Regions from separate parts of the Homo sapiens genome. Here region 2 is linked to region 1. A link means that fine-mapping ties the variant in region 1 to the expression of a gene that starts in the linked region. Tissue or cell type: monocytes after LPS. Region 1 holds a variant in brackets; the other region holds the start of a gene. All regions are shown on one strand. Distances are between the middles of the regions.

The links. PIP is the estimated chance that this variant, and not a neighbour inherited with it, causes the effect.
Region 2: it holds the start of SCAT1, and the variant in region 1 is fine-mapped to the expression of SCAT1 in monocytes after LPS (Quach 2016, PIP 0.95).

Annotation. Positions count from the first base shown.
Region 1 is chr17:79,225,606-79,230,748 of GRCh38, reverse strand. All of the region lies in intron 4 of RBFOX3 (RNA binding fox-1 homolog 3), which reads left to right. Among named protein-coding and RNA genes, the nearest start is that of ENGASE, 150 kb to the right of the region's middle. RefSeq lists an enhancer at 2,355-3,126. The variant G/A (reference allele first, on the strand shown) is at 2,492.
Region 2 is chr17:78,629,055-78,634,197 of GRCh38, reverse strand. It overlaps SCAT1 (S-phase cancer associated transcript 1), which reads left to right and starts at 2,141. Exons shown (of 5, transcript NR_110849.1): 1 at 2,141-2,208; 2 at 3,768-4,166. RefSeq lists an enhancer at 1,806-2,307.

The DNA of each region.
Region 1 (5,143 bases):
GCACTCGTGAGCCTGGGACACACAGTCCTAGTGTAGAGACAGGCACCTTTGCTTCCCATGCCTTGAGAACAGCCTCCTCTCCTCAATGATGAGGGCTCTGCAGGAGCCGGAACTTAGCTCTGGAAAGGCTTAGCAAGACTGCTTCACAGCGTTTCTTCTCAGGAACATTTTGATTGTAAAGAATAAGGAGAGCCGGGTGCCGTGGCTCACCCCTGTAATCCCAGCACTTTGGGAGGCCGAGGCGGGCGGATCACGAGGTCAGCAGATCGAGACCAGCCTGGCCAACATGGTGAAACCCCATCTCTACTAAAAATACAAAAAATTAGCCGGGTATGGTGGCGGGTGACTGTAGTCCCAGCTACTCTGGAGGCTGAAGCAGGAGAATCGCTTGAACCCAGGAGGCAGAGGTAGCAGTGAGCCAAGATCGTACCACTGCACTCCAGCCTGGGTGACAAAGCAAGACTCCATCTCAAAAAAATAAATAAATAAATATGGAGAGAAAGTGAGAGAAAAACAATGCCTCCAAGCCTCTCAAAGACTGGGTGGTGAGGAACATGAGAAAACTGGGGAGAAGGGAACCTAGAGGCCGACGGCAACCCAACCAGCCTCATCATCACTGCGTGTCACTGTGCCTCTGGGCGGCACCCCCCTTGCCCCCAGTGAGAATAGCTGAGGAGGACCCATGAGAAGCTGAGCCTGTTTGGTCTTCCAAATCATGGTCCCTGCACCTGCCTCAGCTGAGTCGGACATACCCAATCCTTTATCTGGGCACAGCATCTCCAGCTGATTAGGAGCTTGGACACAGGTCATCACAAGTGAAACCTGCCGTCCCATGTCATCCGTACAACAGGCCTGTTCAAAAGGCAGGAATGGTGTCCCTATTCTACAGATGAGGAAACTGAGGCTTAGGATGGGTCGATTATTCACCCAGGCCCACGTTGGAAGTGGCCAAGGCAAGACCACAGTCCTGGTTGTTCAGGCTACTTTTCACACTGAGAATTTCCCTGGAGAAGTCAAGCCTCCCTGTAGGAGACTGTGGATTTCACGGGTTTGGATTTCTGAGCCCATTCCCATCCCCACCTCCTCATGCCACCCCAAAGGAGCTCTCTGACCAGTGGGAGATGCAGAGGACTCCACCCTTCCTGGCCCACTTGAGCTCTCCTGTCTTTTTTTTTTTTTTTTTTTTTTTTGAGATGGAGTCTTGCTCTGTCACCCAGGTTGGAGTGTAGTGGCACCATCTCAGCTCACTGTAACCTCTGCCTCCCAGGTTCAAGCAATTATCCTGCTTCAGCCTCTTGAGTAGCTGGGATTGCAGATGTGCACCACCACACTTGGCTAATTTTTTTGTATTTTTAGTAGAGATGGTGTTTCACCATGTTGGTCAGGCTGGTGTCAAACTCCTGACCTCAAGTGATCTGCCCTCCTCGGCCTCCCAAAGTGCTGGGATTACAGATGTGAGCCACCACGCCCAGCCCTGTCCCTTTTTTTTTTTTTTTTTTTTTTTTTTTTTTTTTTTTTGACAGAGTCTCATTCACACTGTCACCCAGGCTGGAGTGCGATGGCACAGTCTCGGCTCACTGCAACCTCTGCCTACCGTGCTCAAGCCATTCTCCTGCCTCAGCCTCCCAAGTAGCTGGGATTACAGGCGTATGCCACCACGCCTGGCTACTTTTTTTGTATTTTTAGTAGAGATGGGATTTCACCATATTGGCCAGCTGGTCTTGAACTCCTGACCTCAAGTGATCCGCCCATCTCGGCCTCCCAAAGTGCTGGGATTACAGGCATGAGCCACTGCGCCCGGCCCTCTCCTGTCCTTTGAGAGAACATTTCCAATATCAGAGTTGCCAGCTGCCTAGCTTCATGGAACTGCAAGGCTCCTGCCTCACCAGAGTGTTTTGTAATGAGTCAGGTGGCAGGAGCGCTTGGTATGCGCACACGTGTTTGGACTAGCGCATCAGTTAGGCTACTGTGATGGGGGAAATAAAGAGCAATGCCCCAGAATGTTGACCACAAAGGGTTAACCCAAACTCACGGCTATTTCTGACTCTGAGAAGGCCAAAGCTGCTTTGCTCCACGTCAGGGATGCAGCCTGGGCACTGCTTGTTGGCAAATCAGCTCCCAAACGCTCAAGTTCTGCATCACGGAACCTGAAGAGGGTCCCTGGTGCCTCCCTTGGCTTTCTGGATGTATCCAGTTGGGTGGTTTTGTGCTACCCATGAAAGAAGCAGGACATTAAACATTTGAGATGGGATCGGAGGACAATGGAAAGAAATCTGTGAGTGTGTGTGTGTTTGTGTGGAAGTATGAAAACCCCAAGTCTGTGTTTTCCCCAGAGTATTAATTACAGCTGGAGAGGAGGCTTGTCCGGGCGTGTTCCGCTTGGGCAGAGTAATTTCTCCCTGGTTTTCAGGGAGCGGGAGGCGTCACGGTGCAGAGAGCAGGACACACACCTCTCTCTCAGGCTTCATGGCCACCCCGCCCGCTCCGGAGC[G/A]GACAGCTTTGCCAAGGCACAGGCCGGAGGGAACACGGAGAGCCCACGGATAGCGCCAGGGAGGAGAGGCGAGATAGTGAGGTCTTGACACAATCCCACTTAAGACAGAACAGGTGACGAGAGAGACCTGTAAGCAGCTTAGAAGGAGGAGCAGGCCAGGCTCCGTCCTACGGAGGAAGGGCAGGGAAGACATGCGTCCCTGGCCAGCCTGGCTGCCCACACCTGGGTCCTTCTGACCCTGCAGGCCTTACATTGACGCTGACCGCAGGGCCCCTTGTCTCTCCAGAGGATTCGTAGGGGGAGGTCCACAAAGAAGGTGGGTTTTATCGCTGTTGGTGGCTAAAAAGCTGCAGTACCTATCTGCTCCCCACTAAGCAAAGTGGAGGTCCATGCAATGTGATGGCTACAATTCAGGACCTCGCTGGCCTTGGCATTACCAGCTCAGAAGGAAAAACCAACACAGAGGCCCCGAGCCTACCTTCCCCTGCCCCTGGATTTCTCCCACCCTCACCTGGACACTGAGGCCACCTGCCTGCATCCCTCAGGCTGGTCAGGGTCTTCCTGGGCACTTTGCTTTTTGCCTCTTGGCCATCACATGTGCTCCAGTTATAAGCCATGGAAGAGTGAGTAACCGCCGCCAGTCAGCCTCCCCACGCCGCCATCCCCCAGCCAGCCGGGAATGAGCGGGGCCCTGTGCTGAATCCTTCTCTATGGCAGAGTCCCCCACTGGCATCAGAGACCTGCTCATCTCCTGTGCAGTGAGCACAAATGACATGCTTGAGATGCAACAAGGAGCCAAACAAAGCCCCTGCCCTGGACGAGCTGATGCTCAAACAATACTCACCCCCTCTTAGGGGTGGGCTGGATTTCTGACATCCATGGGGACACCTCCATCTGGTCCATGGGATCAAAGGACACCAGCCCAGGAGGAAAAGGGGAAACCACTCCGAAACTGAGGCCCAACCTGCCTCTGTGGATGTTCTCTGGCTCGCTGCTTCGCTGGACCTCTCAGGACTTACTTTGTCCCTCCTCTGCTGGAATTCGCCTCTGGGGACTCAACACACAAAACTGGTGGTCTCGGCCAAAACCAGCAAGAAGTCTCCATGGCTCCTTTGCTGAGTGTCCAGCCTGCCAACTGGCTGGCGCTTGCAGATAAGTTAGAGGGAGAGGGAAGGAGGGAGGGAAGAGACACGGGAGTGAGAAAGGGGAGCAAGGCGGGGTTGGAGGCACCGCAGCCTTCTGCTGCTTCTGCAGATGCTCCGCGCAGGCCAGAGTGAGAGGTCCCTGCCCAGAATGCTTAGTGGGTTCCCCCAGGCCTGGCAGGTCCCAGAGCCTCCCGAGCAACTTGTCAGAGCTGGAGTCTGTCCTTATCCAGTCTCACGCTGGTGTAGAAATTTGCCAGCCTCACGCTCCCTCTTTCCTAACTCACATACCTGCAAATGCCCATGTCCCTTGATTAATGTGATATTTTTTATCCAATACCTGTGTGCCAGACCCTCCACCTTGGTGACTGCTAAACCCCCATAGTCACCCCAGGAAGGTAGATGTTGCCATCCCCACTCTACCAAAAAGGGAACAGAGGCTCAGAAAGGTTAAGTAATCTGCTCAAAGCTGCCCAGCAGGACAGTGGCTGGTCTGGAATTTGAGCTCAGGTCTGAGTTTTGCCACATCCCAGGCTCCTCCTGCTCCACAGGGTGATGCCCAGGACACACTGGGTGCAGTCACAGACCCCATGCGTTCTCTTGACCACGGTGGGAAGCATAGCAGGCAGGTGACTGCTCATCAGGCCAGGAAGCCATCCCCACCTCCCCGTGAATACCAACCATTACAAAATCCTCAGGCTGAGCAAAGATGGTCATGAGGTCCATCTTTAGACACCTGGCCCACTTCCTATCCAGGGAATGTGCTGTTGGGGTGACGCTAATACGGTTAAAGCCCAAGTTGGGCTGCACTCCTCCTCTGCTCCAAATCCTCCTGTGACTCCCACTTCTCTTGGAGAAAGGCCAAAGTCCTCACAATACCCTCCCATATAGGACCTCCTATGATCTGACCACTTCTCCCACTGCTGCCTGCCCACTCTCATTACTCCAGCCCATGGGCCACCTTGCTGGTTCCCCAAATAGCTAGACATATCCCATGATGTGGAATGCCCTTTGCCAGGGATATTCTTTTTGCTGGAATATTCTCCCCAGAAAGCCTCAGAGCCCCCTCTTTGGGCCTATCCAGATGGGCCTGAACATCACCTCATCAATTACACTTACTCTGACCACCTGGCTGAACACTGCAGCCCCCTCCTCTGCCCTCCCACACCCCCATCCTGCTTCCCCCACCACTGTCGCCCTTTGACATGCAAGACAATTTTCTAAATTATGTTTGTTGACTCTCCTCCCCAGTACGGGGTAAAGCCCAGGAGTGCAGGAAGGTTAACCTGTTTGGTTCAAAGCTGGGTCCCTGGTGTGGAATGGGCCCAGCCTGCAGTTGGCACCTCACACACATTTGTGGACTTGCTGCTGAGGCAGAAGGGACCCAGTACCCCCTCCGGCTCTGCCCAGCAGCCCCCTACCCAGCTGGGGTCTGTGGGTCCTCGAGGCATGGACACACGCTCCCCTTGGCTGTGAGGAGTTCCAGAGTCAATCCAGCAGCTGAGCACTT
Region 2 (5,143 bases), 600 kb after region 1:
CAAGTGCCTTTCAGTAGCTATTGAAATGTTACTGAAATGTTCAAATGGTCTCTCACTTTTAGTTTATTCATATAACAATTTATGTGGGTAAATATCTTAATTTGAACCAAACTTATGTTCTGGAATCAAGCCTACTGAGTCATGGGATTTTTTTTTTTTTTTTGAGATGGAGTCTCACTCTGTTGCCCAGGCTGGAGTGCAGTGGCGTGATCTTGGCTCACTGCAAGCTCTGCCTCCTGGGTTCACACCATTCTCCTGCCTCAGCCTCCCAAGTAGCTGGGATTACAGGCACCGCCACCATGCCCAGCTAATTTTTTTGTATTTTTAGTAGAGATGGGGTTTCACTGTGTTAGCCAGGATGGTCTCGATCTCCTGACCTCATGATCCACCTGCCTCAGCCTCCCAAAGTGCTGGGATTACAGGTGTGAGCCACCATACCTGGCCGGGATCACTTTTATTTTTTTAGAGAGAGGGTTTCACCATGTTGCCCAGGCTGGTCTCAAATTCCTGGGCTCAAGCAATCTTCCCACCTTGGCCTCCCAAAATGCTGGGATTACAGGTGTGAGCCACCGCACCCAGCCTCCTAAGGATCATTTTTAATAGGGACAGTTACTGCCCACTTGCTGATGGTTGATTTGGGTTCTTGAATCTCTCATTTCCCGTGAGACATTGATCTCTCATTTTCCTTGACTACTTTGGTCAGTCTTTGCTAGCAAAGCCTTCACTTTTATAAAATAACCTAGGAAAACCTTCACTTTATAAAAATAACCTCTTGCCTGTAATCCCAGCACTTTGGGAGGCCGAGGCGGGAGAATTGCCAGAGGCCAGGAGTTTGAGACTGGCCTGGGCAATATAGTGAGACCCCATCTCTATAAAAAAAAAGATAAAATAATCTCTTCAGGGGTTCTGTAGTAATTTAAATAACATGGAAATTATATATTCATGGAAGGTTTGTCAGAATCGGTAAAATGGTGTTGGCCTGGCGACCTCTGGGGGGAAGGGAGAGGGGGAGAAGTTTGTTTTTGTTTTTGAGACAGTCTCTCTCTGTCGCTCAGGCTGGAGTGCAGTGGCGTGATCTCAGCTCACTGCAACCTCCGTTTCCTGGGTTCAAGTGATTCTCGTGCCTCAGCCTCCCAAGTAGCTGAGATTACAGGTGCCTGCCACCACGCCCTGCTAATTTTTGTATTTTTAGTAGAGACGGGGCTTTGCCATGTTGCCCAGGGTGGTCTCAAACTCCTGGGCTCAAGTGACCTGCCCGCCTTGGCCTCCCCAAGTGCTGGCATTACAGGTGTGAGCCGCCCACCGTGCCCAGCCTGTTTTTGTTTTTTTGATTTTTGTTTTTGGCTCAAACCAGCAGTCCCCAACCTTTTTGGCACCAGGGATGAGTTTTGTGGAAGAAAATTTTTTCCATGGATGGGGGCAGGGGTGGGGGATGGTTTCAGGATGATTCAAGCACATTACATTGATTGTGTACTTTATTATCATTACATTGTAATATATAATGAAATCCTTATACAACTGCGCTATCATGAAGAATCAGTGGGAGCCCTGAGCTTGTTTTCCTGCAACTAGACAGACCCATCTGGGGGTGATGGAGATGGTGACAGGTCATCAGGCATTAGATTCTCATAAGAAGTCCACAACCGCTGGGCGCGGTGGCTCAGGGGCTGGGCTCGGAGGCTCACGCCTGTAATCCCAGCACTTTCGGAGGCCCAGGAGGGCAGATCACGAGGTCAGGAGATCGAGACCATCCTGGCTAACACGGTGAAACCCTGTCTCTACTAAAAATACAAAAAAATTAGCCAGGCATGGTGGTGGGCACCTGTAGTCCCAGCTACTCAGGAGGCTGAGGCAGGAGAATGGCGTGAACCCGGGAGGCGGGGCTTGCAGTGAGCCGAGATTGCGCCACTGCACTCCAGCCTGGGCGACAGAGCGAGACTGTGTCTCAAAAAAAAAAAAAAAAAAAAAAAAAAAAAGCCCACAACCTAGATCCCTCGCATGCGCAGTTTACAATACCGTTCGTGCTCCTCTGAGAATCAAATGCCACCACTGATCTGACAGGAGGCGGAGTTCTGCGGTAACATGAGTGATGAGGAGTGGCTGCAAATACAGATGAAGCTTCGTTTGCTCACTTCCTGTTGTGTGGCCCAGACAGGGCACTGTCTGTGGCCCCAGGGGTTGAGGACCCCTGGCTTTAACAACAGAAAGGTACCATCTTACAGTTCTGGAGGCCAAAGTCTGATATCCAGGTGTCTGCAGGGTTGATCCCTTCTGAGGCTGTGAGCAGGACCCCCTCCAGGCTCTCCTCTGGCCTTTGGTTTCCTTCCTTCCTTCCCTCCCTCCCTCACTCCTTTTCTCTCTCTTTCTTTCCTCCCCTCCCCTCTTCTCCCCTCTTCTCCCCTCCCCTCCCCTCCCGTTCTCCCCTCCCCTCCCCTCTCTTCTCCCTTCCCCTCTTCTCCCCTCCCCTCCCCTCTTCTCTCCTCTTCTCCCCTCCCCTCCCCTCTTCTCTCCTCTTCTCCCCTCCCCTCTTCTCCCCTCTTCTCCCCTCTTCTCTTCTCACTCTTTTGCCCAGGCTGGCGTGGTTTATGTTTGTGGTTTTTCTTTATTTATCTTGCCAGACATTTGCACGTTTTGATGAACTTTTCAAACAGCCAGTTCTTTGCTTTATATTCAATTGTAGACTGAGTTTTCCTGGGGGGTGTTGGAATTGGGGAGGAAGGATCTTTTTTTTTTTTTTTTTTGAGATGGAGTCTCACTCTGTCACCCAGGCTGGAGTCCAGTGGTGTGATCTCCACTCACTGCAACCTCTGCCTCCCAGGTTCAAGTGATTCTCCTGCCTCAGCCTCCTGAGTAGCTGAGATTACAGGCACCTGCCACCACACCCAGCTAATTTTTTGTTTGTTTCTTTGTTTGTTTCTTTGTTTGTTTGTAGAGATGGGATTTCACCATGTTGGTCAGGCTGGTCTTGAACTCCTGACCTCAAATGATCTGCCTGCTTCAACCTCCCAAAGTGCTGGGATTACAGGCATGAGCCACCGTGCCTGGCTGTGATCATTTATCTTGGCTTTTTTCTTAAGTCTTCTTCTGTTTCTGTTCTGCAGTGCATGGTGGCTCGTTTGTGTGAGTTCAACGCTCAGCTGTGCATTGTTTATCTCTTAGAGCAGGTGTGAATTTTCTGTTTTCAACCAGCTATGTGCAAACATGAACTCCTATTTTTATAACTGCTCAGACATTCCTATGACAGGGCCTCATTTCTGCTTGGCAACAAGAAAACTGAATTTAATTTCATTTAATCGGGTAAACAGTTCTGTCGGGTATTTTTCTCTAGCGGAGTCTGGTTGAAAGCTTCATCGCTCACAGAGAACATTCCAGCATTAGTGTCATGGCCTCTGGCCGGTGCAAGGGTTTCTCGGAGCCCAGGTGGCTCCCTGCGGGGAGGAGAATTCGACGCTCTGTCCCCTTCCTCTGCCAGGGACCCACTTACTAGTCTCCGGGGCTGCTGTAATAGAGGAACACAAACTGGGTGGCATCAAACAACATCACATTTCTCACAGTTCTGGAGGCCAAACTGCAACATCAAGATATTAACAGATAATGACCTGCTCCCTCTGCAGGCTGTAGGGGAAGAGCCTCCCTTGTCTTTCCCGGCTTCCAGGGCTGCTGGCCATCCTGGGCGTCCTTTGGCTTGTGGCTGCCTGGCTGCCATCCCTGCACCCGTTGTCGCTTGACCTTCCGTTCATGTGCCTCTGTTCTCTCTCCTTATACAGACCCCAGTTACTGGATTGGGATCCACCCTCACTCAATATGGCCTCAGCTTAATGAAAGACATCTGCAGAGACCCTATTTCTACTAAAAGCCACATTCTGAGACTTCTCGTGGGCGTGAGTTTTTGAGAGACACTGTTCTGCTCCATGCAGGGAGGGAATTGGGATCTGAAGACGTTGCATTCGAGGTCTCGGGGCTCCTGATGAGCAGCCTCGGCCTGACCTGGGGCAGGTGTGATGTCTGCGGCTCACCATCTCCACCCTGCCTGCTGTGGAATCTCCACAACGACAGGTGCTTTGGAGGCCAGAGTGCATGCGTACGGGCCCTGCACACGCTGAATGTCACTGGGAACAAGGACACACCCCGCTTCCAGGAGAAGATAGAACATGTCGACCCCTTTTGTGAGTACAATTTTTTGAAGTCTCCAAAGCAATGGGACTGCCCCGGGGAAGATGGAGGCTGTGAAGGGAGTGTTGACCCCAGTGGGAGGTGAACGGAACGGGATATGCGGGCGCTCGGGGTGGAAGAACGACGTAGGCGGTCAGTGGTCGGTGGGCCATGCCCACATCCGGGCTAGATGTCACTATGGTGCTGTTCTGTTTCCACACAGCCAGACAATGCACAAAATAGGCCATCTGGGCCATCTGGGGCGAACATCCAGCCTGGAGGCCCTCGAACAAGCCCACTGAGGGCCTCCAGTTGGGGGCACACATGGGTGACACCTGGCCTAGTGACGCCCCACCTGGGTTGCACGTTAAAGTCACTGGGGAACTTTTAAAGGGCTGATGTCTGATTTCTCCAGGGATTCCGAGGTGAGCGGGAACGAGGTGCGGTCTGGGCTTGGGGGTTTTAGTGTTGGTCATCCACAGCGACACTGAGAACGGAGGCTCTCTGTGGGTGAGCCCTTGGGGAACCCAGCTGACCAGGCCCCTGGGGTCCCATGAGGCCTAAGTCTGAGAAGACTTGTGTCTCCCAGAGCCTGCGGGCCGTCCCAGGCTTGTACCTCTGGCCCCGCTCTCCGCTCAGGCCGCTGAACAGGGCTGATCCACGTCCTTCAAACAGCTGCTCAGATATTTCAAATCAGCTTTCATGGGCTTTTCCATAGGAAGGGGACGTCTGCTTGCTGAAGCCAGCAGCTGGCCCGGCGGGAGGTGTGTCAGATGTGCTGGGGGAGCCGTGACCTTTCCTGGGTCCCCCACTGCTCAGCGCAGCCGCCTCAGGCACGCAGAGAGGATGGCCGAGGCTGCCAGAGGCCCTGTGGCTAGGTGTGAAGGACCTCTGGGTGCTGGAATCTGCACGTGTTCCTGTGTAGTGCTCAGCCCCTAGAGGACTTGCAGGTGGAGTGGGCGAGGACAAGTTTCTGGGGAGGACAGAGGCC